Regions from separate parts of the Homo sapiens genome. Here region 1 is linked to region 2. The links come from fine-mapping of genetic effects on plasma protein levels. Region 2 holds a variant in brackets. A gene starts in the other region. All regions are shown on their reverse strands.

What was found. PIP is the chance, under the fine-mapping model, that this variant and not a neighbour inherited with it causes the effect. The UK Biobank Pharma Proteomics Project read protein levels with antibody pairs (Olink). The fine-mapping took linkage between variants from a reference panel, not from the people measured, so its PIPs are less certain.
Region 1: BPIFA2 starts here. The variant in region 2 is fine-mapped to the plasma level of the BPIFA2 protein (UK Biobank, PIP above 0.99).

What each region holds. Positions count from the first base shown.
Region 1 is chr20:33,159,225-33,175,373 of GRCh38, reverse strand. It overlaps BPIFA2 (BPI fold containing family A member 2), which reads right to left and starts at 7,215. Exons shown (of 9, transcript NM_080574.4): 1 at 7,165-7,215; 2 at 6,072-6,243; 3 at 2,298-2,442; 4 at 1,188-1,295. The coding sequence starts at 6,228. LOC105372714 (a long non-coding RNA gene) reads right to left here. Exons shown (of 4, transcript XR_005647055.1): 4 at 14,751-15,128. RefSeq lists enhancers at 8,076-8,575, 8,576-9,077.
Region 2 is chr1:102,638,649-102,654,797 of GRCh38, reverse strand. LOC105378874 (a long non-coding RNA gene) reads left to right here. Exons shown (of 3, transcript XR_947651.2): 3 at 6,773-6,895. Among named protein-coding and RNA genes, the nearest start is that of COL11A1, 460 kb to the left of the region's middle. The variant C/T (reference allele first, on the strand shown) is at 6,341.

The DNA.
Region 1 (16,149 bases), not on the chromosome of region 2:
TAGAAGTTCCTGCCTGTTGCCCAGTTGGGTTCCTCCACCTGTGTGGACATGAGTCAGAATGTCTATGTGTAATGTCAACATGGCCCAGGTAATATCAACATGGTCCATATCCTCTATGAGATTTACATGTTTATATTAGGGGCTTCTTCTCCTGGCCACTTGGGTTTAGCTCATATGAATTTTTTATACAACATTACACTAATAAGTAAAATAATAATAGTTAACATTTATTGACAACAATTTATGTGTAGGTACTTTAAAAAAGTATTTTACCTGGATTCATTTATTACTATCCCTATTTTCTGAATGAGGAAACCTTGGTACAGAGAGGTTAAGTAACTATCCCAAGATCTCATAGCTAAATAATGGGTGGCATCATTAGTGCATGTAGTTTACAGAAGTGCTTTCACACATGCTCATTTCTTGTCTATCTCCTTTAAAATTAAAATTTTTTATTTTTTGTGAGACAGGGTCTCACTCTGTCGCCCAGGCTGGAATGCAGTGGTGCAATCACGGCTCACTGCAGCCTCGACCTCTCCGGCTCAAGCAATCCTCTTGCCTCAGCCTCCCAAGTAGCTGGGACTACAGGCGTGTGCTGCCACACCTGGTTAATTTTTGTATTTTTTGTAGAGACAGGGTTTTGTCATATTGTCCTGGCTGGTCACGAACTCCTGAGCTCAAGCAATCCTCCCACCTCAGTTTCTCAAATTGCTGGGATTACAGGTATAAGCCACCACTCCCAGCTAAACTTAAAAGAGTTTAAACTTATATTTTGCACACACACACTTTATTATACACTGTGTATTATTGTATGAATTTTTCTGTAGTGGTCACTGCAACTTAGAGAGAATCTTGAGGGACAAAATAATGCTGGAGGAAATTTTGCCAAAGAATGATAAATGTTTGTTATCTCAACTTTTCAAATTTTAAAACCAGATAAATGTCATGATTTCAAAACTATATTCAATGGAGCATTGTTTTTAAAAGACACTTGCTTATGGCCAGAGTTCTCTAGAACATTTTAAGGGTTAAGATCTTAGACCCAGAAGGGTTCTCTCACTCACAGATTGGGAAACTGAGGCCCAAGTTCACCCAGCAGCGGGAGGAGGTGCCCGATTCCCAGGTTGGGCATCCATCGGCCAGGTTGCACTGCCTTTCCCAAATCTCAGATTCTAGTGCATACTCACCCGGCCACAGTGACATTCGCGGTGACAGGGAAGCTCAGGTTAAGGCCTTTGCCATCATCGATCGGTTCAGCTTTGACATCCAGGATGAGGGAGTTGCTGATTTTCAACCTGTGTGAAACCCACAATTCACCCTTGTCACTCCTCATGACAGCCACTTGCCAACCACTTCCCTGGGCCAGCCTCGAGCTGAGCGTTTGGGTCTCGTCAGCCTTGCCTTCTTTAGTCTTCACTATAGCCCTGTTCAGAGGTTTGATTCTCTGTATTTTATGGCACAGCACACTGAGGCTCAGGCTGGTGTGATTTTCCCCCAGATTCCTAGGGGAGTAAGTGCCAGAGGCAGATTTTGAGGCCAGAACTATCTGACTTTAAAAGTTCATGAGTGGGACCGGGCACGGTGACTCACGCCTGTAATCCCAGCACTTTGGGAGGCCAAGGCAGGCAGATCTCCTGAGGTCGGGAGTTCGAGACCAGCCTGACCAACATGGAGAAACCCTGTGTCTACTAAATATACAAAATTAGCCGGGCGTGGTGGTGCATGCCTCTAATCCCAGCTACTCAGGAGGCTGAGGCAGGAGAATCGCTTGAACCCAGGAGGCGAGGCTGTAGTGAGCCAAGATTGTGCCATTGCACTCCAGCCTGGGTAACAAGAGTGAAACTCCATCTCAAAAAATAATAATAATAACAATAATAATAATAAAAGTATGTGAGTGGATCCACTGCCTGGGGTTATGTGGCGAAGACTCCAGTTCCCTTCCCCTAAGGGGATCTGGGCTTTTACCCCCAGTTATATATGGAAAAGGGAAGTTTTATTCCTTGGAAAGGGACTTTGTGTACCAGCAAATGGGTAGAGGTAAGGATAAATATAACCTTCACCCTGACCCTGAAATTAAAGAAAGCGGAAGCCCGAACCCATAAGATGCCCGGATTGACTCTGTAGCCCTGCCTCTAATTTACTCAAGCTCTGGTGGGTCTGGCCTTGCTCAGACCACCTTGGCTCTGTGGGAGGGGAATGAGGCTTGTCCATCTGTCTTTCATCTTAAACTTACCTCCTCAAAGATATGTTTTCCCTTTCCTTAGAGCAAAGATCTCCACCCTGAAGGACCAACTCACCCAAAAATGTCCGTGTTAGTTGGAAGCAGCTTAGAAATGACATTGTTCAGCAATTTCTCAGCTTCCTGGGCCTTCTGCTTGGCCAGTTGCCAAGCACTGGATTTCTGAAGCACTCCTAGGTCGACCTTCAGTTTCTCAAGGATGCCTGCCAAAAACAATCGCCATTTTGTGTCACGCACCACTTACGAAGTAGCTACGATGCTCCAGGTACCGGGTAAGACTGTTTGCCTATGTTATTTCATTTAATCTTTATAACAACTCAGTGAAGTAGATATTGTCACTGTCTGCTTTTTTATAGCTAAGGAAATAAAGGCTCTAGATGGTTAAGAAACGTGTCTAGCCACACAGCCAGGGAACTCTTGTTTCCTCCATACTGCCTCCGTACTATTAATAATATATACTGATTATTTATCAACAGTGCAATCAACCAGTTGGCCAGGCAATTGCTATTGATTGTACACCAGTGTCTAGGAGTGACTTAGGGGTCCATTGTGCTAAGTGAGATGCTCACGTGAGTTTGAAAAACTAGAAAGAATGAGAGAATACACTCAAGAAATGAAAAATCTAGAATCCAGGAGAAAAAATGGCTCCAATCCATGAAACTGGAAAACGAGAGTCCCAGAATGACAGCTTTCCAGCAGGTCCACAGAGCAATAATAATAATTTTTTTTTTTTAACTTTAAGTTCCGGGATACATGTGCAGAATGTGCAGGTTTGTTACATAGGTATACATGTGCCATGGTAGTTTGCCGCACCTATCAACCCGTCATCTAGGTTTTAAGCCCCACCTGCATTAGGTATTTGTCCTAATTCTCTCCCCCACCTTGCCCCCAAGCCCCCAAATGGCCCCAGTGTGTGTTGTTCCCCTCCCTGCATCCATGTGTTCTCATCATTAAACTCCCATTCATGAATGAGAACATGCAGTGTTTGGTTTTCTGTTCCTGTGTTAGTTTGCTGAGGATGATGGCTTCTGGCTTCATCCATGTCCCTGCAGAGGACATGATCTCATTCTTTTTTATGGCTGCATAGTATTCCATGGTGTATATGTACCACATTTTCTTTATCCAGTCTATCATTGATGGGCATTTGGGTTGGTTCCATGTCTTTGCTATTGTAAATAGTGCTGCAATAAACATATGTGTACATGTGTCTTTATAGTAGAATGTTTTATATTCCTCTGGGGATATACCCAGTAATGGGATTGCTGGGTCAAATGGTATTTCTGGTTCTAGATCCTTGAGGAATCACCACACTGTCTTCCTCAATGGTTGAACTAATTTACAGTCCCACCAACAGGGCAAAAGTGTTCCTATTTCTCTACAGCCTTGCCAACATCTATTGTTTCCTGACTTTTTAATAATTGCCATTCTTACTGGTGTGAGATGGTATCTCATTGTGGTTTTGATTTGCATTTCTCTAATGATCAGTGATGATGAGCTTTTTTTCATATGTTTGTTGGCCACATAAATGTCTTCTTTTGAGAAGTGTCTGTTCATATCCTTTGCACACTTTCTGATAGGGTTGTTTGTTTTTTTCTTGTAAATTTGTTTAAGTTCCTTGTAGATTCCGGATATTAGACCTTTGTCAGATAGATAGATTGCAAAAATGATCTCCCCTTCTGTAGGTTGCCTGTTCACTCTAATGCCAGTTTCTTTTGCTGTGCAGAAGCTTTTCAGTTTAATTAGATCCCATTTGTTAATTTTCCATGCTCACGGATAGGAAGAAACAATATCATGAAAATGGCCATACTGCCCAAAGTAATTTATAGATTCACTGCTATTCCCATCAAACTACCATTGACTTTCTTCACAGAATTAGAAAAAAAAACTACTTTAAATTTCATATGGAACCAAAAAAAGAGCACATATAGCAAGACAATCCTAAGCAAAAAGAACAAAGCTGGAGACATCATGCTACCTGGCTTCAAACTATACTACAAGGATACAGTAAGCAAAACAGCATGGTACTGGTACCAAAACAGACATATAGACCAATGGAACAGAACAGAAACTTCAGAAATAACACCACATGTCTACAACCATCTGATCTTCAACAAACCTGACAAAAACAAGCAGTGGGGAAAGGATTCTGTATTTAATAAATGGTGCTGGGAAAACTGGCTAGATGTATGCAGAAAACTGGAACTGGATCCCTTCCTTACACCTTATTAAAAACTTAACTCAAGATGGTTTAAATACTTAAATGTAAAACCCAAAACCATAAAAAACCTGGGCAATACCATTCAGGACATAGGCACGGGCAAAGACTTCATGACACCAAAAGCAGTTGCACCAAAAGAAAGCAATAATTCTTATAGGAGGAGGAGGACAAAGTGTCTTTATGATAGGTCTCTGGAGAACAGGGGGATGGGAATAAATGTCGTGACTGGGTGTGGTGGCTCACGCCTGTAATCCCAGTACTTCGGGAGGCCAAGGCAGGAGGATCACTTGAGGCCGGGAGTTCGAGACCAGCCTGGGCAAAATGGTGAGACTCCACCGCTACAAAAAATGTAAAACTTAGCCAGGTGTGGTGGTGTGCACCTGTAGTCCCGGCTACTGGGGAGGCTGAGGTGAGAGGATCAGTTGAGCCCAGGAGGTTGAGGCTGGCAGTGTACTCTAGCTTGGGTGACAGAGTGAGACCTTGTCTCAAAAAATAATAAATGTCATGATAGATACAGGATGATGCTCATGAAAATAATTAAGTATATATGAGAAGAAAATAATTCAAGTGAGAAACAACAGGGCAATTACTAACTTAAGGAAAAACAAAAGACTATACCGTATAAGAAAAGAGATGTAATCATAATATTGTAACTTGGCTCTGTAATGGACAATATCTACCTAGTTATAATGATTCAGAGAATGACACTTTAAATAAAATTGGTGATATAACTACGTCTAATCGTATAATTCACGAGGTGACTTTGGTTTAGACATTTCTGTCTCTGGGCCTCAGTTTTCTCAGCTGTGAAATTAGAGTGTGAGTCCTTTCTGCATCTTTGAAAGTTACCTAAGCCCTTGACAAGGTTTGAAAGGCAGCCATTTGCAGAAGTTACCTCCTCCTACAAAAACTGTTTTTGATGTGCTGCTAATGTTTCCATAAAACAAAAAGAAAGCCAAGTTATTTTAATAGGTTAGCATAAAAAGGAGGTATAAATAAATATAAAGGTAGGTAGCTTTACAGATACCAAGGCTAGGTAGGGATAATTTCCTTAATTTTCACTGAATTAACACAAGTCCATAAAAGAATATTAAACAACCCAAAAGAAAAATATGCTAAGAATATAGACAAAATCCTCAAGTTAAAATATGTAAGTACATAGTAAATATATGAAAAAAGAAGAGGGCTCCTTCATAATTAGAGGAATGCAAAGTGAAATAAGTTATAGCTTTTCATCTGTGAGACAGGCAGAATATTTAAAGTTGTCCATACCCAGTGCTGGAAAAGGAGTGGGAAAAAAGGCACTTTCGTAGACTGTTGGAGAAAGTGTTAACATAGGAGATTATTTGTCAACAGCATAGTTTTTGAACTTTTGAAATCCCACTTGTAGGAATTTATCTTATGCACGTTTATCAGGATATAATATGTAAAAGGCTATTCATTGTGGCATTGCTTGTTTCTAGAAAGATAAACGAATGAGTCAGGAATTGAATAGCCACTTTTCTCAGTAAACCGCCCATAAAGAGTAGCCCCTGGTGGCAGCCTCTGGTAATGCAGGCATAGTGTTTAGGAGGCTAATTTAGGTGACACTGTTCATCACCCTTGTTGATTTACCTTTAAGAGTATTGTCAACTGTCTCAAGTCCCTCGTGAAGAACAGGTTCCAGCTTATCCACGACATTGCTTAGGTCATTGCCAAGATTGTCAAGAAGAGACTCTGAGGTCCCAGTGAGCACGCCGCACAGGAGAACAAGTTTCCAAAGCTGAAGCATCTTTTGTCTTGACACCTGGACAGTCATGGGAAGAACAGGAGTGAGAATTGCCCAGAGGGAAATGGACTCTTCAGTGAGTTCCCATCACTCTTAACATTTAGCATTCCATTAAGATAGATGTGGTTATTTCCTATTTTACAAATGGGCAGCCAAGGTCAGAAAGCTACAGCAACTTGCCCGGAGACACACAGTCAGTGAGCAGAGGAGCTGGGATTTGAAAAGTCAGACTTGACTCCAAGCCCATACTCTTGACACAAAGTTCCTTTTCATACGCTGTCTTCTCTGCCTAAAATATTTTTCTTCTTCTTTACTTTTCCACTTAGGTCAATTCCTACATCATGCCCTCTGTGAAGCCTACTGTAGGCCCCTTCCCAGATTCTAGGTTGGAGGAGTCCCACCTTGCTGCCTTCATTATCCTGATCAAGGTCTTGGATAACACTTCCCTGATGATTTGACCACCTTTCCTACCAGGCTGTGAACTCCTTAGAGGAAGGACTGTGACTTATTTCACTGTCGAATCCTCAGGCGCCAGTAAAAAGCCTGCACCTAGTACAGTACAGTAAACGAATAAATCTTTGTTGAATATAAGTATGAACAAATCAATGGAGACCACCTCATGACCCTGCATTGTTCATTAGTTTGACACTTATTTTAATATAATCTATAGATCTCTAAATTTACTCTGATTTGCCATTTGTCTTGACACCTGGACAGTCATGGGAAGAACAGGAGTAAGAATTGCCCAGAGGGAAATGGAATCTTTAGTGAGTACTCATCACGAACTTGCCATTTAGAGCACATTTAGAGATATATTGATTATCTCTGCTGTATTCAAAATATTAGCTAACCCAAGCAATCCCACCCCTCTGCCTCTTGCCCCCAAAGCCTTCCAAAGACCACCACGTGTGGTGCCACTGGGGGGAGCACGCCACTCACGCGTTTAGAGGAGGATGCTCATGAAATCCTTGCCCCACTGCACAGTCTGCTGGGATTCTGCTGAATGGTGGCGGCTATTATATGGTGGAGATGGGATGGAAGGCTGCCCACAGAAGCAAGCCTTGGTTCTGGGATCATCCAAGGACACTCCAAGGAAAATAACCCCTCTCCAGGATGAGCAGAGAGAGAGATTTCCAACTCAAAGGTCACCCAGGATGCTTGAATTGAAACGGATGGCTATGGAGAGGGCTTTCCGCCAAGACTAAGACCAGGTCCTCATGGAGCCTGCAGCTACCGAGGGGGTGGTCCTTGGTCCTTGTGGGTGAGGACTGGGAGAAGACTGAGAATGAATGAATTGGAGAATGTCCTGGCAGGAGGACCCATAATGACCATCCGGTCTAACTCCGTCATCATTTGGAAACTGAGGCTCAGAGAGGGGAAGCCACCAGCCTGGGGTCATTCAGCAAGACAGGGACCGAGATGGGTCTAGAATTGTGGCCCACAAGGAGTCAGACAGCCTCCCAGGGGTCCTGCCCCCAGGGGTCTGCACCCGGCAGGTGCAGCAGATGCCTGGCAGCTGCTTGTGCTGACACTGGGCTTGGTGTCCCTAAAGGGCACTTTAGATGCACTTTTCTGTTAGTCTTTATGAAAACTCTGTAAGGCAGGTTTTCAGAGCTCCATTTTCCAGTTGAGAAAGCTGAAGTTCAGAGAGGGAGGTGGCTTGTCCATACTTGCAAGGACAGGAACCAGGCATTTGGGCCACCAGGGAAGACCCTTCCACCCATATCAGGCTGAGGTCAGTTAGCAGAGAGGGAGAGTCCCTGGGCCTGAGTATCCTGTTTTTGCTTCGGCCACTGATGTTTGGGTTGGTTGTAACGCCTGCTGCATTGGGCCTGTGTCAACCCGGAACAGCACAGGAAACTCGGGTGGGTGCCCACTTGGCCTCAGGCTGGGAAGGACTGGCACAGAGCTCAGGGTCACCATAGGTCTCTGCCCTTCTGCTCACCCACCTGCAATTCAGCAAGGACCTGGGGGGCCTGTCCTCAAAATGATGCAACCAAGCAAACGGTGGGACAAGACCAGTGGCTCCAGGAGCTGGCTGTTCCTACACTGACCATGGCTCCACTGTTACAGCACAGAGCTGGGCGGCTGCAGGAAGGTGATGGCCAGGCCCCAAGAGCCCAGACCATTAGACCCCTGCTGCAGTCTTGCCTGTGGTCTTGAATGGTTGTCACACCTCCTTCCCTGGCTGCCTGACACCGGGTTCTCCAAACGTCTGAGCCCCGCTCTTCCCCCAGTTGTGAAGCACAGAGCCAAGGGCTGTGCTGAAATCTTGTGAAGGCAGTTTGTCCCAGCCCAGGAACATAGCCCAGGGTGCTGAGCATGATGCAGTGACCTCGAGACCTGGTGTTGGCCCAGGCCTCAGTTGCCTCATCTGTAAAATGGGTAAACACGCTGTTCCTGGATCTCAGAGGCATGGTGGACAGGCAAGGACCTAGGAAATCAAAACGATGGTGAGGGGCTTTGAGGGCAGTGCTCAGAGCCTGGCACTGGGCTTGGGCTGTCCTGGGCATGAATACTCTCTCTCTGCTGGTTGCTGGCCATGTGACCTGGGCCAGAGACCGCACCTTGCTGAGCCTCAGGCTCTTTATCTGTGAAATGGGACTAAGAACAGTGCTCACCTCAAGGGCATGCTGTGAGGTCAAATTAGTGTAATACCCATGAAGGCTTAGCATAGGGTAGGCCCATGATGCACGGCAACAGCAAAGATGGCGAAGAAGATGCTGATGAATATGTGCGCATATGGTCCCGGCTTACGATGGTTTGACTTCAATATTTCAACTTTACTATGGGTTTACTGGGACACAACCCATTATAAAATGAGGACCATCTGGCCAGGCATGGTGGTTCACACCTGTAATCCCAGCACTTTGGGAGGCCGAGGCGGGCAGATCACCTGAGGTCAGGAGTTCGAGACCAGCCTGGCCAACATGGTGAAACCCTGTCTCTACTAAAAATACAAAATCTAGCCGGGTGTGGGGGCAGGCATCTGTAATCCCAGCTACTCTGGAGGCTGAAGCAGAAGAATTACTTGAACCCAGGGGGTGGATGTTGCAGTGAGCCAAGATTGTGCCACTTCACTATAGCCTGGGCAAAAGAGCGAAACTCCGTCTCAAACAAACAAACAAAAATAAAATAAAATGAGGAGCATCTGTCATAAGATTAATATTATATAATATATAATATAGGGTCCTTGGTGGGTGGGGAGGTTGGGATCCTCAGAGGTCACCCGAGGTTCAGGCTGGCTGGTCTGAGTCATTCCGGAAAAAGAAACAGTGACAACTCCTCCTGTGTGCTCCTCCTCCTCCTCTTCTTCCCTCTCCAGGTTACACAAAGTCTTCTCACATAGAAGATGTTTGCCTCTTAGGGACAAAGGCCCCAGCCATGAGGGTCGCGAGATGAATTTCTTATTGAAAATTCCCAGTGAGGCATTAAAGATTAGCTGTGCCAAGACTAGGACATCCTACCTGCTGCGTGACTGCTAATCCCCAGCTGGGGCAGCTTCCTGATCCCACTGGCCCAGCCTTAACCTCCAAGCTGGTATCTTTTTCCATACCTGGCTCAGTGCCCTGGCTAGAAACAGCCTAAGAGGTCATGCAGCCTACTGAGACCAGAGAAAGCGAGTGACAGGGCTGGGGTTGCATGAGGGGCCAGCCAGGCTGGGGGGTGCTCAGCTGACCAGACTGCCCACTGACCTTCCTTCTCCTGTGGACAGAAGCAGCCCCCACCCCTTCTCCAGATAACAAACACACAGGTGTGCACTCCCATTGCACCCATCAAAGATAATTGCCTTATTTTGCTAGTAAAATTGCTGAAAGGCTTGTCACCATTTTGCCTGTGAAATCAGTCAAGTACGAATCATCCATCCAATTTCTAGTAGGTCCTGGTTTCTCACACTTGAACTGCCTACTCAGGAATTCTGGGCAAATAAGAAAGATCAAAGCAACAAAACCTGTTCACACGTTACTGTCCTTCCTGTGACTGCTAAATAGAGCAATTAATAAAGTTGTCACAATGTTACAGTCTGAAGACCTTTAATTCAACTTTTGGTAATTTTGACTTTGCCGGGTTTTCTTCTGGTGACACAGTTTATTCTTTCAGCGCTCAAGTATTTCCCTAAGTCCCGGATTCCACATCTGGACACTAATAGACCCCTCTCAAGTCCTGCCTTTAGAATATGGAGAGCCACTTCCTATGGACTGACAGATGGAGGGGGCCTTGCCCCACTGCAGGCTGGAGTCTTCTTCCTCCTGTCCCATGGAATGTTCCCTGAATGCTTCATCCAACACTCCCAGAGAAAATTTAAAGGAGTTTTCACCGGGTCAGGGTCCTCCCCTGGGTCCTTTGAAGTCTGGGCACCTTGTCTTCGTTCACCTTCGTTCCCCCAGAGCTGGCACAGGGTCTGGTCTACAGCAGGAGTCAAATGATGTTTGTGGCAGGAAAGAAAGGAAAAAGAGAGAGAGAGAAGGAGGAAAAAAGAGAGAGGAAGGAAAGAGAGAGGGAGGGAAAGAAGGAAAGAGAGGGAAGGAGGGAGGGAAGAAAGGCAGGAAAGGAGAGAGGGAAGGAAGAAAGAAAGAAAGAAAGAAAGAGAGAGAGGGGATGTGGAGAGAGAAGAAGAAAGGGAGGAGAAAAGGAAGAGAAGAAGGGAGGGAGGGAGGTCAGCCACGTCTCGCCAGTCCCACTCTCTGAGGGCAAGACCACAGCATCTCCGAGGTCCCAGTACCCAGCACAGGGTCTGGTTCCCCTCATGGGCATTGACTTTCTGTCTTCCCCAGGTGGGTGGGCCTCTTGACATGAGCGAGCTCTCTGGGTCGCTCCCTGTTCTCACCTCACTCCCTGGAATTTGGCCCCTCAATCTCTCTGTGCCCTCTCTCATCTTCCAGATCCTCCCTGCTAAAGTGGGCCTGGCCCTGTATCTAGTCATCTGTCCATTTATTTATTGTTCATTCACTTTACAAGTGCAAATTATTTTCTGCTGGAGCCACTCATGCTTTTGACAACCCTTTAGTGGGCACCCCAAGCCCTGTGATGGGGTCAAAGATGTCTGAAGCTCAGTCCTTGTCCCAGAGACAGGCCAACTCCAGGGCAGTAGGTGAGCTGATTCGATCGGCCCATGTCTGGCAAGAAGGCATATTCTCTCCATTTACTCCTCCCAGCAACCAGAGGCAGGGACTGTCTTATTCCCATTTTATAAACAAGGAAACTGAGGCACAGAGAGGTAATGTGTACTGCCTAAGGTCACACACCTAGTAAGTGGCAGAGCTGGGGCTTGAACTCAGAAAACCTGGCTCCGGAGTCCATGCTCTGAGCTACTCACAGTGCACTGCCATTTATACTGTACATATATATATATATATATTTTAAACAAAGTCCATCTCGGCTCACCGCAACCTCCACCTCCCGGATTCAAGTGATTCTCCTGCCTCAGCCGCCCGAGTAGCTGGGATTACAAGCATGCACCACCACACCCTGCTAATTTTTGTATTTTTAGTAGAGACGGGGTTTTACCTTTTGGCCAGGCTGGTCTCAAACTCCTGACTTCAAGTAATCCGCCTGCCTTAGCCTCCCAAAGTGCTGGGATTACAGGCATGAGCCACCGTGCCCGGCAGCACTGCCATTTATATTCTAACAGTCGGAATCCTCCCTGGGCTGTGTGGGTCCTTTCGATTCATCTCCATTGCGCTAGCACCCCCAGCCCCAAGCCTGTGTCAGAGAAATCCCTTCATAAAAGCTTACTGGTTGAAGGGTTGTGGGTTAGCCCTTTCTCCTCCGCTGGACTGGGGCTCCTTAAGGTTGGGGATCATGATTCTGCCATCTGTGTGTCCTCAGCAGCCAGCCTGGGGCCTGGCTTTTGGTGGATCCCAATAAATACCACAATTAATTAAAGTGAGAAAAGCAAGTTAATCCACAGACTGAATAGATGAATGTAGATGAGACCCAGAATCACAAGAAGAGTCCTTCCTTCCCTCCACCCACCCATCCTGTCATTCATTCATTCGTCACACACTTACAGAGCGTCTCACCTGGGTCCTGTCCTGTGTGGGGCTCTGGGCCCCACAGAGCACCCCCACATGTGTCCATCCTTAGACCCCACCAGCAGGGGCAGAGGCCAACACGCACACTGACAATTACTTTCCACAAAGCAGGTACAGTTCTTGCAAATTTTCTGTGCATTGATGGCCCCAAGCAAATGGGGAGCTGCTGTCCCTGGCACAGTGCCCAGCCCTGGTGAAGGTCCTTCCTTTAAGCACTGAATGGGGTCGAAGTTAGCACTTTGGGAGTGAAAGAGGAAGTGCTATGACACTGTGGGGTAGGTGGAGACAGATCATGTAGAAGACAAATGATGGGAGGATTCCAAAACGTGGCTAAGTCTGGGTATATTTATCTTGCAGGGGCTTTGGGTAACCAGCCAGACCTCAATTTGGGTCCTAACCCTGCTGCTTTCTAGCTGTGTGACTCTGGAATGGTGGCATTGCCTCTCTGGGCCTGCATTTCCTCATTTGCAAAATGGTGACCATGATCATCTGCCTGACATAGCTGATCTGGGACTTAAGCCTGGAAAAGAGTTAGCCCAGTGTCGGGCACATCATAAGTGCTCAGTAAAGATAACTCAGAAGTGCTGTGCCCAGCGGCAGGATTAAGGGTGGGAAAGAGGGCAGAGCCTCATTCTAGATTCCGCCACTGGCCAGCTGTGTGATGTTAGGCAAGGCATGGCCGCTGTCTGAGACAGTGTCTTCTGCTCTCTAAAATCGGTGCTAATCCTGGCTAGTAGGGACTGGGGAGGCATTAAATTAAAGGGGGAATGCAGAATCCTGGAGCATCGTGTGGTGGCCACTCAATCAAAAGGGGGAATAAAAACCATGGGAGAGGCTGGGCACAGTGGCTCATGCCTGTAATTCCAGCACTTTGGGAGGCCAAGGCGGGTGGATCACCTGAGGTCAGGAGTTCAAGACCAGCCTGGCCAACATGGTGAAATCCCGTCTCTACTGAAAATACAAAAATTAGCCGGGTGTGGTGGCAGGTGCCTGTAGTCCCAGCTACTCGGGAGGCTGAGGCAGGGGAATCATTTGAACCCGGGAAGCAGAGGTTGAAGTGAGCCAAGATCTCACCATTGTACTCCAACCTCGGCGACGGAGCGAGACCCCATCTCAAAAAAACAAAAAAATCAAAACCATGGGAGAAGTACCATAGCTCCTTGTCTTTTCGTCCGGGACCCTCGAAGGACTTGTTTCTGTGGGGTCTTGGCTTACCACCTCAGACTTCTCTGTTTCTGCTGGACAATTCCCAAAGCCTCCTCTCTGGCCTCGCAGAATTTCTTTGCATCAACTCTTCCCAGTGCCAAGGGCCAGGTCTGAGGATGTCACCCCCCTGCAAATTCTCCCCATCCTGCAAGCACCTCTTATATAAAGCCTTCATTGAGCCACCCAGCTGACCTTTTCTCACGTTCTGCCTTGTCATTTTTGAACAGGTGTCTTCCTTGCCTACACACCCACAGCTGTCTCTTCTCCATTGTCAACTCCAGGAGGCCAAGTTCTCTCTGGGGTTCATCTCTGGTTTCCCACCATGGCTTGCCAATAAACTGAAATGTTTGTCAGTTGCATTTGTCAGGATTCTTTGGGTTATATTTGTAATTGAAAACACAACCCAAAGTGACTTAGATGTGAAAGAAAGTCATTGGCTCATGTAACTAGCAGGCCAACGGGTTTCAGGCATGGCTGAATCTAGGTGCTCAAAAGAAATCTCCAGGCCTTTGTTTCTTTCCATGACTTGGCTTGGGGTTTCTCCTCAAACTGACTTCCCCAAAGAGGTGGCAGAGATGGCCACCAACAGATTCAGGTCCACATTCTCTCTTAATAGTCTAGCAGAAGAAAGTATGTCTTTCCTAATATCTCTTCACAAGTTCTAGGACTGATTCCCATTGGTCCTGCTGGGGTTACATGCGGAGCAATGAACCAACCAAAGTGGCCAGGGTGAAGGAAGCCACTGGTTGGCCGATTTGAAAATATTACATCTGCAAAGAGGCAGAGGTAGAATGGTCAGAGGAGGAGGAGGAGGAGAGCCAGGGGAGTAAGGCCAAGGGAAGAACTGGATTCATGGAGGAGGAAGTGGTATGTGTGCTATGGTCAAGATGAGGCTGACCTCATCTATGATCCATTGACTTCCTCTACCTGGTGATCACGGAGGACCTGGTAAGGCCGAGTTTGGTGGGGCAACCAGTGGAAACAAGATGGGTGGTGGGGTGGATGTATCCAAAATAAGCATGCTGCTCAAAGGGTGGCCCATGGACCGCTGGCCTCTCCCTAGTTCAGACCAACTGCTCTAGAACCTGCATCTTAACAAGAGCCCAGGTGGCTCATTTGTGTGTTCAAGGTGGAGAAGCACAGCTCTAAGGAACTTTGGCTGCGAAGGGACGAGAGAGGGAAGGAGGTTGGTGGAGGGAGTGTGGAATTACAGAAGGGACCTTTATTCTTCCTGAGAAGGGAGGGACTTGAGCAAGTTAGGTGTGTGTTCTTAACAATGGAAAAGGTGGGGGGAGGGGATGTTTTATTTAACTTTCTGGTCACCATGTAAAACTTAATATGTTGCAGGACACTGTTGCAGATTTGCAGGTCAGATTCATATCAAATGGGACCTGGCTATGCTTACTGCCTGAAAGAATGAATGTCGTGATGGTGATATTTCCCAGGAGCCTCCCATAGTGGATCCTGTGGTGACCCAAGTCCTCGCCATCCATCTGAGCATTTATTGCTGGACCAAGAACAGGTGCCCTGGGCCTGTGGAGACTCAGGAACCCTGAAGGCCAGCTCCACTTGCTTCTTCTCTGCCTTCCTTGTGCCACCCTCAGGCTCCACGTGACTCTCCCCGCAGCCTGCAGGGCCCTCAGGTTGTTCACAAAGGCGGTCCTGACGAAAAGGTTGAGAAAACAAACATGGTCATATGTGTCATCAGCCATGCACCCAAGTGACACTAGGGAGGCCCAGTGTGGACTGAGCTCTGGGTGGCTTTGGCTGGGGCATGGGGAGACACCCAGGAGCTGAGGGCCCTCTTCTTGCTGCAGGGTCCACCCCCGCAACTCCAGGAGCCTCCTGGATATGGCTTCTTGGCTGTTGCACTGCATTTTTCTCCAGAGAACCAGGGGACCGTGAAGGCACTCCACTTCAAACATCCCAATCCCTGTGGTATCAGTGGTGAAACTGAGGCCAGAGGGCATGGGAGACTCAGCCAAGACACAGTAGGGTCCCCCCTGCTCCAGGCCCCAGACACCCACCACCTCCTGCAGCTCCTGCTCGCTGCCAGAGGATCTAGGTGTGAAGCCCAGCTCTGCCTCCTTCCAGCTGTGTAGAAGTGGGCCAGGCAGCAGCTAACCTCACTGGGCCTCAGTTTCCTCATCTGCAGAATGAATATGTATCAACAGCTGCCTCTTAAGGGGGGTAAAGGGCGGAATGAAATGATCCATGGCTGGGCATAGGATAAACAATCCACAAAGAGCTAAGGTCTATTCAAAATATTATTGCTATCATTGGCCCCATTTTTCCCCTTTGGAGCCTGAGGCACGAGAGGTTATGTGTCCTGATAGGCTGAAGAGCTGGGATTTGAGCCGAATTCTGACTCCCCAGTCAGACTCCCCAGTCCATCCATGCAGTCCCATCACCACTTTGAACCTCAGTCTCCTCATCTCTAAAATAGAGATAATGATACTGCTGACCTTGAGAGGTGGCTATGAAAATCACATGCGATCCTGAAAGCCAAATGCCCAGCACAGTGCCTGGCATAAAAAATAAAAATAAAAATAAAATGCTGCATTATGCAAATATCCTTAAATTCTAACAGGTATGAGAAACATGGAGTAGCAGGGTCACAACTCTACCTTGTGGCAAAATCTGAGAACTGTGCCTGCTCTCACCCCAATCCCTCCGCCTGGGA
Region 2 (16,149 bases):
TCCATGTACTCAATTTCAATGATCCCCTTACCAGTTCAGCACATTCTTTCTTATAGCTAACCCTTTCAGGTACAAGACTCCAACAGTCTTTCAACCACAATGGACTTCCAATCCAATAATCTTAAAGCCTCATCATTGACTTAACTCCCTCCTTATTGAGAAAAGTTCCATAGTCCAACATTGTAACCACTCCCTAACACGTATCTTTAATTCTTTCTCACCTTTCTCACTTTCTTGTAACTTCAACTTGATTAAATTTTATTCTCACCTTGCAAATTTTATTCATCCTCTGCCTGAGAGTCTTAGAATGCTCTTCCATTGGATATCTATAAGCATTGCTCTTTTGTTTCTATAAGACTTTATAAAATGTTATTTCCATAAGATCTTCTTATTCCACTGTTTAAGTAAGGCAGTACTCCTTCCTTCTCGAGTTTTCTATTATCTCCATCTCCTTGTTCTGCTGTATTTTCCTCCATTAAAGTTAATAACAAAATAAAAGTTATTACTTTCTAAAATGCTACATATCTTACATATTTATTTTCTTTATTAGTTATTCTTTGTTTTCTACACTCTCACACACAGGATAGAATATGAGTTCTAGGTCCCCTTGTATATATATATATATATATTTTTTTTTTTTTTTCCACTGAGGTATTTTCAGTTTCTAGAACAAGTCTTGGTTCATAGAAGTAACTTAATGAATATTTTTAAAATGTGTTAAATGAATGAATGAACAAAAACAAATTGCCTCCAATAACTGTTGCTTGTGGCACAGGTAGCCATAACACGAACACAGTTGTGCCTTTCTGTTTTCCAAGGTTGAAGTAACTCCTAAATGAAAGAGTTTGTACTAAAATCCCAATAATATATGTAAAATCTATAGTTCTTTTCCCTACTATTTTGCCTTAGGAACGATTTTATTTCATTTGATGATTAACTGTGAAAATGTATTTTCTCCAGAATTTTCTGTATGTTGGACTTTTATCAAAATGTTACTACCACATACACATTTATTATAAATAGAGTAGAGAGACTGAACAAGAAAACTTGTGACTCCAGATCTCCAATTTTCTATAAAAGGAATGGATAATGAGATGAAATAATACCATGTATTCTTAGATTACTTTAGAAAAGCAGAGACAATTTTGTGAAATAAAATTTATGTATGTTCTTTCCTAGGTAATATGATTTGCTATTATTGCCCTATTGAGATTTTAATAAGCTCTTGGAAGGAAAGAAAGTTTGGTTTTAAATTAAAAAGAGTGCTATTTGTCTATGTTCTACAGCAAGGTACTCTGCTGCAGCAATTCACTTTGTTACACAATGTTCACCACAATACAAACCACTATTACAGATATAATACCCAGATGATACAAGGCACAGTAAACCAGGAGGTTTAATGTTTTTGATCCCATGCATGTCAATTTCTGCTTCATATTTTCACCTATTATGTGGTGTATCTATGTGTAATTATACAGCTGGTAGTGTTTTGATTTAGGTTTAACATAATTTCATATTAATTTTGTAAATTTCTCTCCTGATTGCTAATTAAAACATGCCAGTGATTACCCTGAAAGATATTAAGTCAGCATGAGGTGGTCAAATATTTCTTTGGAAACTCAAAATATTCATTTGTGCTAACCTAGGTGACTCAGGTACCACCAAATTTATTATTTTCTTATCAGTCCTAAAAACCTTTATAGAATGTGAAAAAAATCATATACAGTTTCTAAAACTTTTGCAGATGTTCATCTTTCTGGCAGCAGTTTCTTCCTGCACAAATTGAAAATGCTATTTAATTTTAAAAGGCAATATAAACAGACTCCAAAAAATATGTTCTCTTAATCATATAGAAGGGAAAGCTGGTAGTGTTTTTATCAAGTCTCATTTTACTCCTTGGTTACTAAATGTAGCTAAGATGACAAATTGATTTCTATACTGTAAAAACAAAATATTAACACACTTTTTTCCCCATAAGGTGGATTAGTTCTAGGTATTAAAATTTCAAGACATCAAGTTCAGGATACTTAAGTATCATTTGAGATAAATAGACATCTTTGGAAAATAGACAAATCAAATTTATAATTTTCTCTGAGTTTCAAGAAAAATTTAATTTTGGTAATCTCAGACTAAATAAATTAATATTGCTACAAGAATTGAAGAATTGGGTCAAATTTAACTTACAGTTCTGTTGATCATTGACTAATAATTCTTAAAGTATCCTTAACCATGTGGGAGGCTAAATAATAACGCTCAAAGGTCTCCAGGTCCTAGTCTCTGGAACCTGTGAATGTTACCTTAAATGGCAAAGAGAGACTTAACCAGATATGATTAAGCTAAGGATCTTGAGATGGGTAGATTTTTCTGTATCATTCAGGTAGACATTGAATGCAGTCACAGATGTCCTTATAAGACAAAGGCAAAGACAGATTTGAAACAGATAAGATGGTCACATGGCTGAAGTAGAGAGAAGCAGATGAGGCAGAGGGGAGCAGAGTCAGAGAGAGGTGAGACTCTGCTGGCTAGGTGCGAGAAGTCATGAGCCAAGGAATGCAAGTGATGCAACTTCAGAATCTGAAAATGAGAAGGAAGCACACTTCCCGAGAGCCTCTGGAGAGAGTGCGGCCCTGCTGACACTTTGATTTTAGCTCAATGCAACTGATTTCAGGTTTCTTATCTCTAGAGTATAAGAGAACGAATGTGTGTAGTTTTAAGCCACCACATTTGTGGAAATTTGTTACAGAACCCCTTAGGTAACTAATGCAAAAAAAGTGCCTGAAACACAAGAGGAAGATATAAAAGGCATTCAAATAGGAAGAGAGGAAGTCAAATTGTCTCTGTTTGCAGATGACATGATTGTATATTTAGAAAACCCCATCTTCTCAGCCCAAAAAATTCTTAAGCTGATAGGCGACTTCAGCAAAGTCTCAGGACACAAAATCAATGTGCAAAAATCACAAGCATTCATATACACCAATAATAGAGAGCCAAATCATAAGTGAACTCCCATTCATAATTTCTACAAAGGGAATAAAATACCTAGGAATACAACTTGCAAGGGTTGTGAAGGACCTCTTCAAGGAGAACTACAAACCACTGCTCAAGGAAATAAGAGAGGACACAAATAAATGGAAAAACATTCCATGCTCATGGATAGGAAGAATCAATATCATAAAAATGGCCATACTGCCCAAAGTAATTTATAGATTCAATGCTATGCTCATCAAGCTGCCATTGAGTTTCTTCACAGAATTAGACAAAACTACTTTAAATTTCATATGGAACCAAAAAAGAGCCCACATAGCCAAGAGAATCCTAAACAAAAAGAACAAAGCTGGAGGCATCATGCTACCTGACTTCAAACTATACTACAAGGCTACAGTAACCAAAACCACTTGGTACTAGTATCAAAATGGATATACAGGCCAATGGAACAGAACGGAGGCCTCATAAATAACACCACACATCTACAACCATCTGATCTTTGACATACCTGACAAAAGCAAGCAATGAGGAAAGGACTCCCTATTTAATAAACGGTGTTGGGAAAAGTGGCTAGCCTTATACAGAAAACTGAAACTATACCCCTTCCTTACACCTTATACAAAAATTAACTCAAGATGGATTAAAAACTTAAATGTAAGACCTAAAACCATAAAATCTCTAGAAGAAAACCTAGGCAATACCATTCAGGATGTAGGTAAAGGCAAAGACTTCATGACTAAAACACCAAAAGCAATGGCAACAAAAGCCAAAATTGACAAATGGGATCTAATTAAACTAAAGAGCTTCTGCACGGCAAAAGAAACTATCATCAGAGTGAACAGGCAACCTACAGAATGGGAGAAAAATTTTGCCGTCTATCCATTTGACAAAGGGCTAATATCCAGAATCTACAAATAACTTAAACAAATTTACAAGAGAAAAACAAACCACCCCATCAAGAAGTGGGCAAAGGATGTGAACAGACACTTCTCAAAAGAAGACATTTATGCAGTCAACAAACATACGAAAAAATGCTCATCATCACTGGTCATTAGAGAAATGCAGATCAAAACCACAATGAGATACCATCTCATGCCAGTTAGAATGGTGATCATTAAAAAGTCAGGAAACAACAGATGCAGAGAAATAGAAATGCTTTTACACTGTTGGTTGGAGTATAAATTAGTTCAACCATTGTGGAAGACAGCGTGGCAAGTCCTCAAGGATCTAAACCAGAAATACCATTTGACACAGCAATCCCATTACTGGGTATATACACAAAGGATTATAAATCATTCTACTATAAAGACACATGCACACATATGTTTTTTTTGCCGCACTGTTCACAATAACAGACTTGGAACCAATCCAAATGTCCACCAATGATAAGCTGGATAGAGAAAATGTGGCACATATATATCGTGGAATACTTATGCAGCCATAAAAAAGGCTGAGTTCATGTCCTTTGCAGGGACATGGATGAAGCCGGAAACCATTATTCTTAGCAAACTATCATAAGAACAGAAAACCAAACACTGCATGTTCTCACTCATAAGTGGGTGTTGAACAATGACAACACATGGACACAGGAAGGGGAACATCACACACTGGGGTCTGTCAGGGGGTGGAGGGGATCTAGGGGAGGGATAGCATTAGGAGAAATGCCTAATGTAGATGACGGGATGATGGGTGCAGCAAACCACCATGGCATGTGTATACTTATGTAACAAACCTGCACATTCTGTGCATGTATCCCAGAAATTAAATAGATATATTTTAAAAAGTGCCTGAAACAGTAGATTTCAGTGTGGAATCAACTGGAACAGGAAGACTAAGTCTGTAATCATAAACAACAGGTGATATGAATACAGATCCATTTTAAGTCTAAATACATGACATAAATTTGAGGAAAAATGTTTTGTTGTTAGGATGTTATGAAATAAAATATAAATATAAAATTTAAACTTTAAAATTTAAAGTTTAATAATTGTATATGTTTAATAATTTAAAATTTAATAATTTTGAACATACACAAAAGTTTGATAATTGTATATGTTCCTGTAAGTTCCTTCTTTTGACAAGAAAAAACATTATATGCACTTTTTTTTTTTTTTTTTTTTGAGACGAAGTCTTGCTCTTGTTGCCCAGGCTGGAGTGCTGTGGTGCGATCTCGGCTCACTGCAAGCTCCGCCTCCTGGGTTCACGGCATTCTCCTGCCTCAGCCTCCCGAGTAGCTGGGACTACAGGCGCCCGCCACCACGCGTGGCTCATTTTTTTGTATTTTTAGTAGACGGGTTTTCACCATGTTAGCCAGGATGGTCTCAATCTCCTGACCTCGTGATCCACCCGCCTCGGTCTCCCAAAGTGCTGAGATTACAGGCGTGAGCCACCGCCCCTGGCCAATATGCACATCTTAAATGCAATTCTATTTCAACTCTATGTTCTCTTTGCCTGTAAGGAGACCTCAATTTTCTTTGGAGCCTATTTCCTAAATCAGATAAATATATTATATAAGAGAGGATATGATTTTAGTGATAACAGCAGTAAAATAAATATGTAATCATTACTTTCCTACACAATCAGGACACTTTCCAACAAGAAATATATTTATTTTTAATGCCACTAGGAAAGACAGCAGCTAGACATTACTGAAGTTTCTCAGTTTGGGGCCCTACTGTCCTTTATTCATAGTGTCCATTCCATACCAACCTCTTGATGTTACATATTTTGGGTACCTGCCAATGGCTGGGCTTTCTGAAACTTGGAATTTTCTTTTTCTATCTGGTTAGACTTGTGAAGGCAACTACCATATTCCCTATGATACAAATAATACCAAATATATTTTTAAAAATTCTCTATGCAATTGACTTCTTATAATTTATATTTCTCCATTTTTTTTGCATGCCCGTGTTACATTTAGTTGCTGTCAAATGTAAGTGATACTTAGTTTTTCTACTGCAATATGGAGAGTTTTGCAGAACGATTTTCACTTTTCAAAAGCCAAATTTTACTACAGAAGGCATTGTAATGACTTTAATTATGGTTTAAATACTTCAGAATTATTTCTAATGGTTGTGGGTATTTCAGAGTAAATAGCAGGAAGTATGTGTAGAATCCTCATGTTGGATAAAGAACTATGACTCTTTTTTAAATGCTTAGTAATAATCAGTAAAAATTATATGCATATATATGTGTGTGTGTGGGGGGGGTAAATTGCCCAGAATTAAAAATAATTTCTTTATCTACCTTATGTTTTCAAGACAATTTTAATAAATCTTTAATGTTACAAATTATCTTCACTTCCATTCAATATATTCATAATTTTATTGTGAAAGTTCCATTTATAAGTCTATTT[C/T]GGTATCTAAATGTAAAACTACAGGCATTTACGACTATTTGTTCAACCGAAGAGAAAAATACCCAGAGTACCTGTTCTCATGATGCTTGCACTCTATTCAGGCTAGAGAAACAAGAAAGAAAAAAATGCACTTACTAACAGAAGGATCTAGTAAGCTCCAGACTAAAAAATTTAAGGCACAATTTAATGGGAGCTCAAAGACTTAAATTCTCTCCAAAATTACATTATAATCTTTTGCTTGAGAACATAGATTTGAGGCTCTCAAAATCAACCTTTTATGAAGTAAAATATAATCATGTGACTCGGTTTCATTCACTAAAGAGTGAGCAGAAATTATGTATGCAATCTTCTAATCTAGCCCTTAAAAAAGTGAACAAAACTAAAGCCTACCATACTCTTGTTGTTTTCATCCTCTTTTTATCTTTTCACTAGCAAGGATGGAGAGGACCCCAGTAAGCTTGGAAACCACATATTGAAAATGGTGTCATGGTTCCACTCAGCCTAATACTCTGAGCAAAGATGTGGAGGAGTGTTAAACTGGCATGGTCATCATAGAGTGAACAAAATATAAATGTCTGCTGTGTTTGAGGCACTTACATATCAAGTATGTTTGATGTATCATTGCAGTTACCCAAGGTAGAGGGAGTGGTATTTTATACAGGGTGGTTAAAGAAGCCTCTCTAATAAAGAGAGGCTGAGAGAACTTAATGAAGGGAGAGACTCACTTATGTGTCTATAAAAAGCAGAGTGTTAACTGTCAGAGGGAGAAATTATTGCAAAGAAGTGGAGGCAGGAGTATTTTTGAGAAAGCACAAGGAGGCTAACATTACTGGAACAGTAGACACAGGTGGGAGAAAGTGAGGTCAGAAAAGTACCGTGTGGCCATATCATATTGAGCCTTGAAGGCTGTGATAAACTTTTAGGATTTTATTCTGCATAAGACAGAAAGGCAGAGATATAATACAATCTAATCCTATTTAGAAAATCATGAGTCCTGTGTTGATAATTAAATGTAGGCAGGTGCATGAACAATTTAAAGACCATTATGGTATTCTAATATAAGCACTTACTGTTATAATTTTCTTTCTGAACTCCACTTTAGTTGCATCCCATAAACCTTGATATGTTTGTTTTTCATTTAGTATAATCACAAAAGCAGTATCCTTTGAGACTTTTTCTTAGGTGTAGGCACTACATAGGGTTTTGTTGATTAATTGCTAAATGTCTAAGGGGATATGACAGATGCCTTTATGTCATTGATTTTGGTTTAATCTATAGTTATCTGGGGATGCCCTTTGTATGATATCTATTCCTTTAAATTGTTTAAGATTTGTTTTGTGGCCCAGAATATGGTCAATTTTGGTGCATATTTCATGTATACTTGATAAGAAATCTTATTCTGTTGTTAAGTGGGGTGATGTAGGAATTAGAGTCAAGTTTATAGATAGGTTTTTCAGGTCTGGTAGTTAGATAGGTAGACAGACTTTTCATATCTTAGCAATTTTCTGTCTATTCATTTGATCAATTACTGAAAGATGAAGGTTGAAGTCTCAACTTGATTATGGAGATTTCCTTTTTCCTTTGTATTCTATTAGATTTGCTTCATGTATTTTTGAAGCTCAGCATTTAAGTACATATGTTTTTAGGATTTTTAAGTTATTCTTGGAAAACTACTTTTTTTTATAATGTAATGTCCCTCTATATTATTAATAAAATTCCATGTTCTGAAGTCTACATCATCTTATATTAATAGGGGCACTCTAGCTTTCTTTAAATTAGTATGTGCATGGCATATTCATGAGAGGTTTGAGAAATTTGGGGCTTGATCAAGGAAAAGATATGACCATGACATGGCAGTTTATTTCATCACTCTTTGACAGGTTTGTATTTTATGTGGGATGGGAGGGGGGATCTCTTATGACAGAACATAAGTCTATCCAGAGGCTTAAGTGGGGTTGCTACAGAAAGGGAGGAGGGCTGGGAATTTTCCTAGGGGGAAGGGGTATCAAAGATGGGACTTATGTATCCAGATGATGTGACTCAGCCACATCCAGAGGGCAGCAGTGGTTTGGGGGTCTTTATGGCATAGGGCTTATCTATTGCTGGCAGATGTGGCATGACGTTTTACAAAGTATTCAAAATAAGCAGGCTCTAAATAGCTAAAAATTAGCTTGTTTGGGCTGTTTTAAAAATAACTGGATGTGTAAATATTTGTGTTTGGCACTGGCAGGCTCTTGAGCTAATGGGTTGCAGCCTGCAGCGAAGAAATAAACAACCTAGTGGCCAATGTTCAGAGGCCATTATTTTGCCACATTTATATAACAATCCATCCCTGGTTCTATGTTGTTTTATAATCTAAATTGTATTTTGTTTTGTAGGGCTTAGATGGAGCCAGTGACAAAGCATTTTCATAACCCAGAATTCCATACAAGATGGGGCACAAACTAGGATTTCGAAAGTATTCACAGCCAGTCTATTCACCTAATGGAGGTAGAATAGATTAGAAACAGAAATGACTTTTTGATTTGTTCCATCTGTTTAGTCAGCAGACTGATATGATAGTTCTGGTGCATGTCATTAGCTACCTATAAAACTTGGTGATTGTTGTTTTACTCACATGCAGCAAGATGTGTTAACAAGTACCCAGATCCTTTCTCATTTTGTTCTTGGGCTAGATCCTTAAGGACAGACTGGGCCTCAGGGTGAGAGAGAAGATGCATGTTTTCTCCTCCAAGGGAGAGTTGGTTTCTCCTTCTTAATCATTTTGTCTGTTTTGTTCTTATTGCCTTGTGGTGGACGACAGGCAAAAAGAGGGTAAATTTTCCCAGTCCCAATTGTGGTGACACCATGTTGCTCTTTTCTCTAGAGGGCAACAGTCCTCTTCTCCAGGGTCCTCCCCTCCACTTCATCTTCTCTAGGAGTTTGGGTTCTTTTCTTCTGTCTGGTTGGCATCCTGGGTCCTCCCCTCCACTTCATCTTCTCTAGGAGTTTGGGTTCTTTTCTTCTGTCTGGTTGGCATCCTGGTGAAAAGCTTCTGTGAGCAGGGCCCAGCACACATCTCTTGGTTTGTAGCATTCCTTCAGTAGGATAGCCACTTCCTTTGAAGTATTGAGAAAAGGAGGAATATAAACTTCCTTAATTTCATCTTTTAAATAATGCATTTCTCAGCTCAGTCCAAGGCTTTGGGTCTCAATATACTCCCCAGAAATCAACTAGAATGACACCATCTCCAGTAGTAGATCCAAGTAAGACAGCAGCATCGGCATGCTATCTGCTTACAAATGTGTGCCACTCCAGCTGCACTTAAGAAGCCAACCCTTGTCTGTCATCTATGCCTTGTAGGTTCATTTACCTGCCATTGTAGTCCCCAAGGAAAGGACTCCTCTCATTTCAGCCAAATTCAGCAAATTGCCAGCCTAGCCAAAGGAGCACCTCCTGACGTACCTTGTTACTGTGTCTAAGATGTCCCACCATTTGTCCAGAGGCGTGTATTCCTCCTTTTCTATTCAGGCTCATAAGTGCCTGTTGCCTGCCAAATTAGGAACCCATGAAACAAAATACACAGTGGGCAGTTTGAATTACTACAAAAAGCAGAGGTAAGAACACCAAGAAAATGAAATGTTGATGAAATTGGATAAATATATGAAATAACATTCCAGTAACAATAGTGATTAACATATAATAATAAGATTTCCTTGTAGGAAGTTTGTCAGGAAATTGTAGAAAGATTAATTTTTTTTATAGTAGTTTAATCAAATTACCTTAAAAATTCCCTACAACAGTGACTCTAGCAATTTGCAAACAATTTATATCAAACTTTGAATTATGTCATTAGTTAATAATTAAAAAATAAGCAATTGTAAATAACACACACTGAAAAAGAATGTGATTATTATCTCCAATTTATTGATTTCCTTAAAATGTTGGCACTATAGTGCTTTCTTTGGCCTTTTCTTCTTATGTTTGTAATACCTTATCATTTTATTTTATTTTATGTTTTTATTATTATTATACTTTAAGTTTTAGGGTACATGTGCACAATGTGCAGGTTAGTTACACATGTATACATGTGCCATGCTGGTGTGCTGCACCCATTAACTCGTCATTTAGCATTAGATATATATCTTAATGCTATCCCTCCCCCTCCCCCCACCCCACAACAGTCCCCAGAGTGTGATGTACCCCTTCCTGTGTCCATGTGTTCTCATTGTTCAATTCCCATCTATGAGTGAGAACACATGGTGTTTGGTTTTTTGTCCTTGCGATAGTTTACTGCGAATGATGATTTCCAATTTCATCCATGTCCCTACAAAGGACATGAACTCATCCTTTTTTATGGCTGCATAGTATTCCATGGTGTATATGTGCCACATTTTCTTAATCCAGTCTCTCATTGTTGGACATTTGGGTTGGTTCCAAGTCTTTGCTATTGTGAATAGTGCCGCAATAAACATACGTGTGCATGTGTCTTTATAGCAGCATGATTTAGAGTCCCTTGGGTATATACCCAGTAATGGGATGGCTGGGTCAAATGGTATTTCTAGTTCTAGATCCCTGAGGAATCGCCACACTGACTTCCACAGTGGTTGAACTAGTTTACAGTCCCACCAACAGTGTAAAAGTGTTCCTATTTCTCCACATCCTCTCCAGCACCTGTTGTTTCCTGACTTTTTAATGATCACCATTCTAACTGGTGTGAGATGGTATCTCATTGTGGTTTTGATTTGCATTTCTCTGATGGCCAGTGATGATGAGCATTTTTTCATGTGTCTTTTGGCTGCATAAATGTCTTCTTTTGAGAAGTGTCTGTTCATATCCTTCGCCGACTTTTTGATGGGGTTGTTTGTTTTTTTTCTTGTAAATTTGTTTGAGTTCATTGTAGTTTCTGGATATTAGCCCTTTGTCAGATAAGTAGGTTGTGAAAATTTTCTCCCATTTTGTAGGTTGCCTGTTGATTCTGATGGTAGTTTATTTTGCTGTGCAGAAGCTCTTTAGTTTAATTAAATCCATTAGTCAATTTTGGCTTTTGTTGCCATTGCTTTTGGTGTTTTAGACATGAAGTCCTTGCCCATGCCTATGTCCTGAATGGTAATGCCTAGGTTTTCTTCTAGGGTTTTTATGGTTTTAAGTCTAACGTTTAAGTCTTTAATCCATCTTGAATTAATTTTTGTATAAGGTGTAAGGAAGGGATCCAGTTTCAGCTTTCTACATATGGCTAGCCAGTTTTCCCAGCACCATGTATTAAATAGGGAATCCTTTCCCCATTGCTTGTTTTTCTCAGGTTTGTCAAAGATCAGATAGTTGTAGATATGCGGCGTTATTTCTGAGGGCTCTGTTCTGTTCCATTGATCTATATGTCTGTTTTGGTACCAGTAGCATGCTGTTTTGGTTACTGTAGCCTTGTAGTATAGTTTGAAGTCAGGTAGCATGATGCCTCCAGGTTTGTTCTTTTGGCTTAGGATTGTCTTGGCAATGCGGGCCCTTTTTTGGTTCCATATGAACTTTAAAGTAGTTTTTTCCAATTCTGTGAAGAAAGTCATTGGTAGCTTGATGGGGATGGCATTGAATCTATAAATTACCTTGGGCAGTATGGCCATTTTCATATTGATTCTTCCTACCCATGAGCATGGACTGTTCTTCCATTTGTTTGTATCCTCTTTTATTTCATTGAGCAGTGGTTTGTAGTTCTCCTTGAAGAGGTCCTTGATGTCCCTTATAAGTTGGATTCCTAGGTATTTTATTCTCTTTGAAGCAATTGTGAATGGGAGTTCACTCATGATTTGGCTCTCTGTTTCATTTTATAATAAACAAACGTTTCTTTTACGATTGAAAAATTCAGAGAGATACAAAATTTGAAGTAATCACACCTTATTAACTTAAAAATATACCATATATAAAAAACTAATACACAAAAAATTATTAAAACTGATAAATTTAGTAAAGTTACAGGATACAAAATCAACAAACAAAAATAAGTACCAGTCCTATATACTAACAGCAATCTATATGAAAAAGAATCAAGAAAGAAATCCCAATTACAATAGTTACAAAAATACTTAGAAATAAGTATGGCTAAAGAAGTAAAATATATTTATAAGAAAAAACTAGAAAACACTGATGAAAATAATTTAAGAGGACACACACAAAATGGAAAAATATCCTATGTTCAACGATTTAAAGAATTAATACTTTTAAAATGTTTATACTCCCCAAAGCTACCTCCAGATTTGTTTAAAGAACCACATAAGATCTCACACAGCTAAAGTAATCCTGAGCAAAAAGAACAAAGCTGGAGGTATCACACCATCTGATTTGAAATTACACTACAAAGCTGTAGTAGTTAAAATCACATGGTACTGGAATAAGAAAAAAAAATAAACTAATGAAATAGAATAGAGAACCCAGAAATATATCTATGCTCTTACAGTAAACTCATTTTTGACAAAGGTGCCAACAACATACCTTGGAGAAAGGACAGCATCTTTAATAAATGGTGATAGGACAACTGGATACTCCTATGGAAAAGAATGAAACTAGATCCATATTTTTCACTGTATTAAAAATCAACTAAAATCAATTAAAGATTTTAATGTAAGACATAATCCTAGGCCGGGTGCGGTGGCTCACGCCTGTAATCCCAGCACTTTGGGAGGCCGAGGTAGGCGGATCATGAGGTCAGGCGATTAAGACCATCCTGGCTAACACGGTGAAACCCCGTCTCTACTAAAAATACAAAAAAAATTAGCTGGGCGTGGTGGTGGGCGCCTGTAGTCCCAGCTACTAGGGAGGCTGAGGCAGGAGAATGCGTGAACCCGGGAGGCAAAGCTTGCAGTGAGCCGAGATGGCGCCACTGCACTCCAGCCTGGGCGACAGACCGAGACTCCGTCTCAAAAAAAAAAAAAAAAAAAAAAAAAAAAAGGCATAATCCTAGAAAACTACTAGAAGTAAACATTGAGAAAACACTACAGGACATTGATCTGGGCAAAGATTTTTGGGGTAAGTTCTCAAAAGCACAAACGAAAAAAGCAAAAATAGACAAACAGGGTTTCATCAAGTTGAAAAGCTTCTGAACAAAAATGAAACAATTAGCAAAGTGAAGAGACAACCTAGAGGATAGGAGAAAATATTAGAAACTACCTATTTGAAAAGAGATTAATAAACAGAATATAAAAGGAACTCAGGCAACTCAATAGCAAAACAACCAAATAACCCAGTTAAAAAACAGGCAAGGGACATAAACAGACATTTCTCAAATGAATGCATACGAATAGCCAACAAGTAAATGGAAAAATGCTCAACATTATTTATCATCAGGGAAATGCAAATCTAAACCACAATGTGATATCATCTTATCTCAGTTAGAATGGCTATTGTCAAAAAGATTTTTTTTAAATGACAAATGCTGGCAAGGATGTGAAGAAGAAATAGCAATGCTCTTACACTCTTGGTGGGAATGTAAGTAAAAGAGATACTATGGAAAACAGTATAGAGGTTTCTCAAAAGACTAAAAATAGAACTACCATATGATCCAGAAATCCCATTCCTGGGTATATATCCAAAAGAAAGGAAATCAATATATTATAGACAGTTGCTCTCCCATGTGTATTGCAGCACTATTCACAATAGTCAAAATATGGAATTGAACTAAGTGTCCATCAATAAATGAATGGATAAAGAACACACAGTATATATACAAAATTTAATTTTATTCAGCTATAAAAAATAATAAAATTCTGTCCTTTGCAGCAACATTGATGGAACTGGAGGACATCATGTTAAGTGAAATAAGATAAGCTCAGAAAGACAAATATCTCATGCTGTCACTCATATGTGGGAGCTAAAAAAAGTAGATATCATGGAGGCAGAGAGTAGAATGGTGGCTACCAGAGGCTGTGAGAGGAAGGGAGGATAAAGAGAAGTTGGTTACTGGGTACAAAAATATGCTTAGATGGCATAAATATGTTCTAGTATTCAACACTACAGTAGGAAAATTAAAGTTAGTAAAAATTTATTGTATATTTAAAAGCAGCTAGAAGAATTGTAATGTTCCCAACACAAAGAAAAGATAAATGTTTGAGGTGATGCATATCCTAATTACCCTTATTTCATCATTATACATTGTATACACATATCAAAATAGTACGTGTAACACCCAAATATGTACAACTATGATATATCCATTAAAAATAAAGTCAAATACAGACACACACACACACACACACACACACACACACACATATATATATCATATATTATGTATTGTTTGAGTATTATCCCCAAAGAATGTACTTTTACTTAAAAGGGTAAGTAAAGTAAATTATATACAAGTTCTCTTGAATTTAATAAATCCTTTGCAAATGTGAGTCTTCAACCAAAGTTAGTAAAACTTTATACCATACTTGCTTTGTACCAGGAGCCATTATAAGTATTTAATATTTACAACAACCCTGTGATGTAGACACTATTTTTTCCCTGCTACACAGATGATTAAATGGAGTAAATGGAGGCATAGAGAATTAGAATAACTTGCTCAGTCATGCAGTTACTGAACACTAGTTATGTCTTAGGAGCCAAATTTGAGAATGTATGGTTTTAATCCACTCTTCCAAACTATCTCCCTATAACAAACATATCGATTGCAAACATTTCTATTATTATTTAGAAATTTATACAATAATTTCATATAAATGACATCTTTTAATTCTTACTACTACATTGCTTTATTCACTCTAAAATAATAATGTGATTTTGAATGTCTACTATTGCTACTTAATGTGCTGTTGCTCCAGAGTATTAAAATCTACGGCTAATAGCCATACAACCTTGCAGATATTTGAGGTATTTGCAATATTATAAACCATATTCAGAATATTCTGAAGGCAAATAGAATTTTCTCCACTTTATAAATAAGAAGCCTGAGTCTCAGAGTGTTTAGAACATTTTCTGAAATCATGCAGACAATATATTAAGTGGGATTGCTGAGATTTGAACTGAGTATTTGTGAAACTGGTTTCAGTCTTTGCACTGTATCTCAAAATTATCCAAGTTTTTATCCTTTTTAAAAGATACTCCATTAAAGATTTTCATTGTTCATCAGTGCTCTCAGAACTTGCTCAAGGAAAAACATAACTGTAATAATCAAATATAAATTCCAGGAGTAATCATCTCCTTTATATCATCCTCTCTCTTCCCTCCACCATAAAGGTGTGGTCCAGAATGTATTACATACATAGCAATTTAAAAATTATGCTATATTTCCTCACCTTTACTCCAATTTCACTTTAAGATAATGCTGATGCATTCTGCAGGTGCAGATATCATATTACGTGTTTAGTAGTGAGAACCAATCTCTACCTAAAGGTAAGTCCTTGAGAAGTTGTTGATAATGTGTTTTTTATTATGAACACTTTTGTGCTAAGTATATGAATCTTGAACATTTTAGAATTTGCTTCCAACTTGGTGTTTTATTTATTTATTTGTAAAATTGTATGCCACTCAGAGCATAAAAAGAATGATTAAATATCAATTTGAGCCAGTTCTAGCCAGTGGTGCATTCTTCTATCACAGTGTGCAACCATGTGCAACTATGAATCTTGGGTAAGAGCTCCCAGAGAACATTTGATGATTGAATTTGTGCTTATCAGATTGAAGTTTGAAAAATTTAGTGCTAGTAGATTGATTTTTTTTCCAAAAAGCACATGTAGATATATTAGAGGCCAAGTTGGAACCAAACACATTAAAAAATAGCTTTAGAGGCAAAACTCACTATTTACAGGTCATAAAACATCTGGTTCTTTAAAATCTTAAGC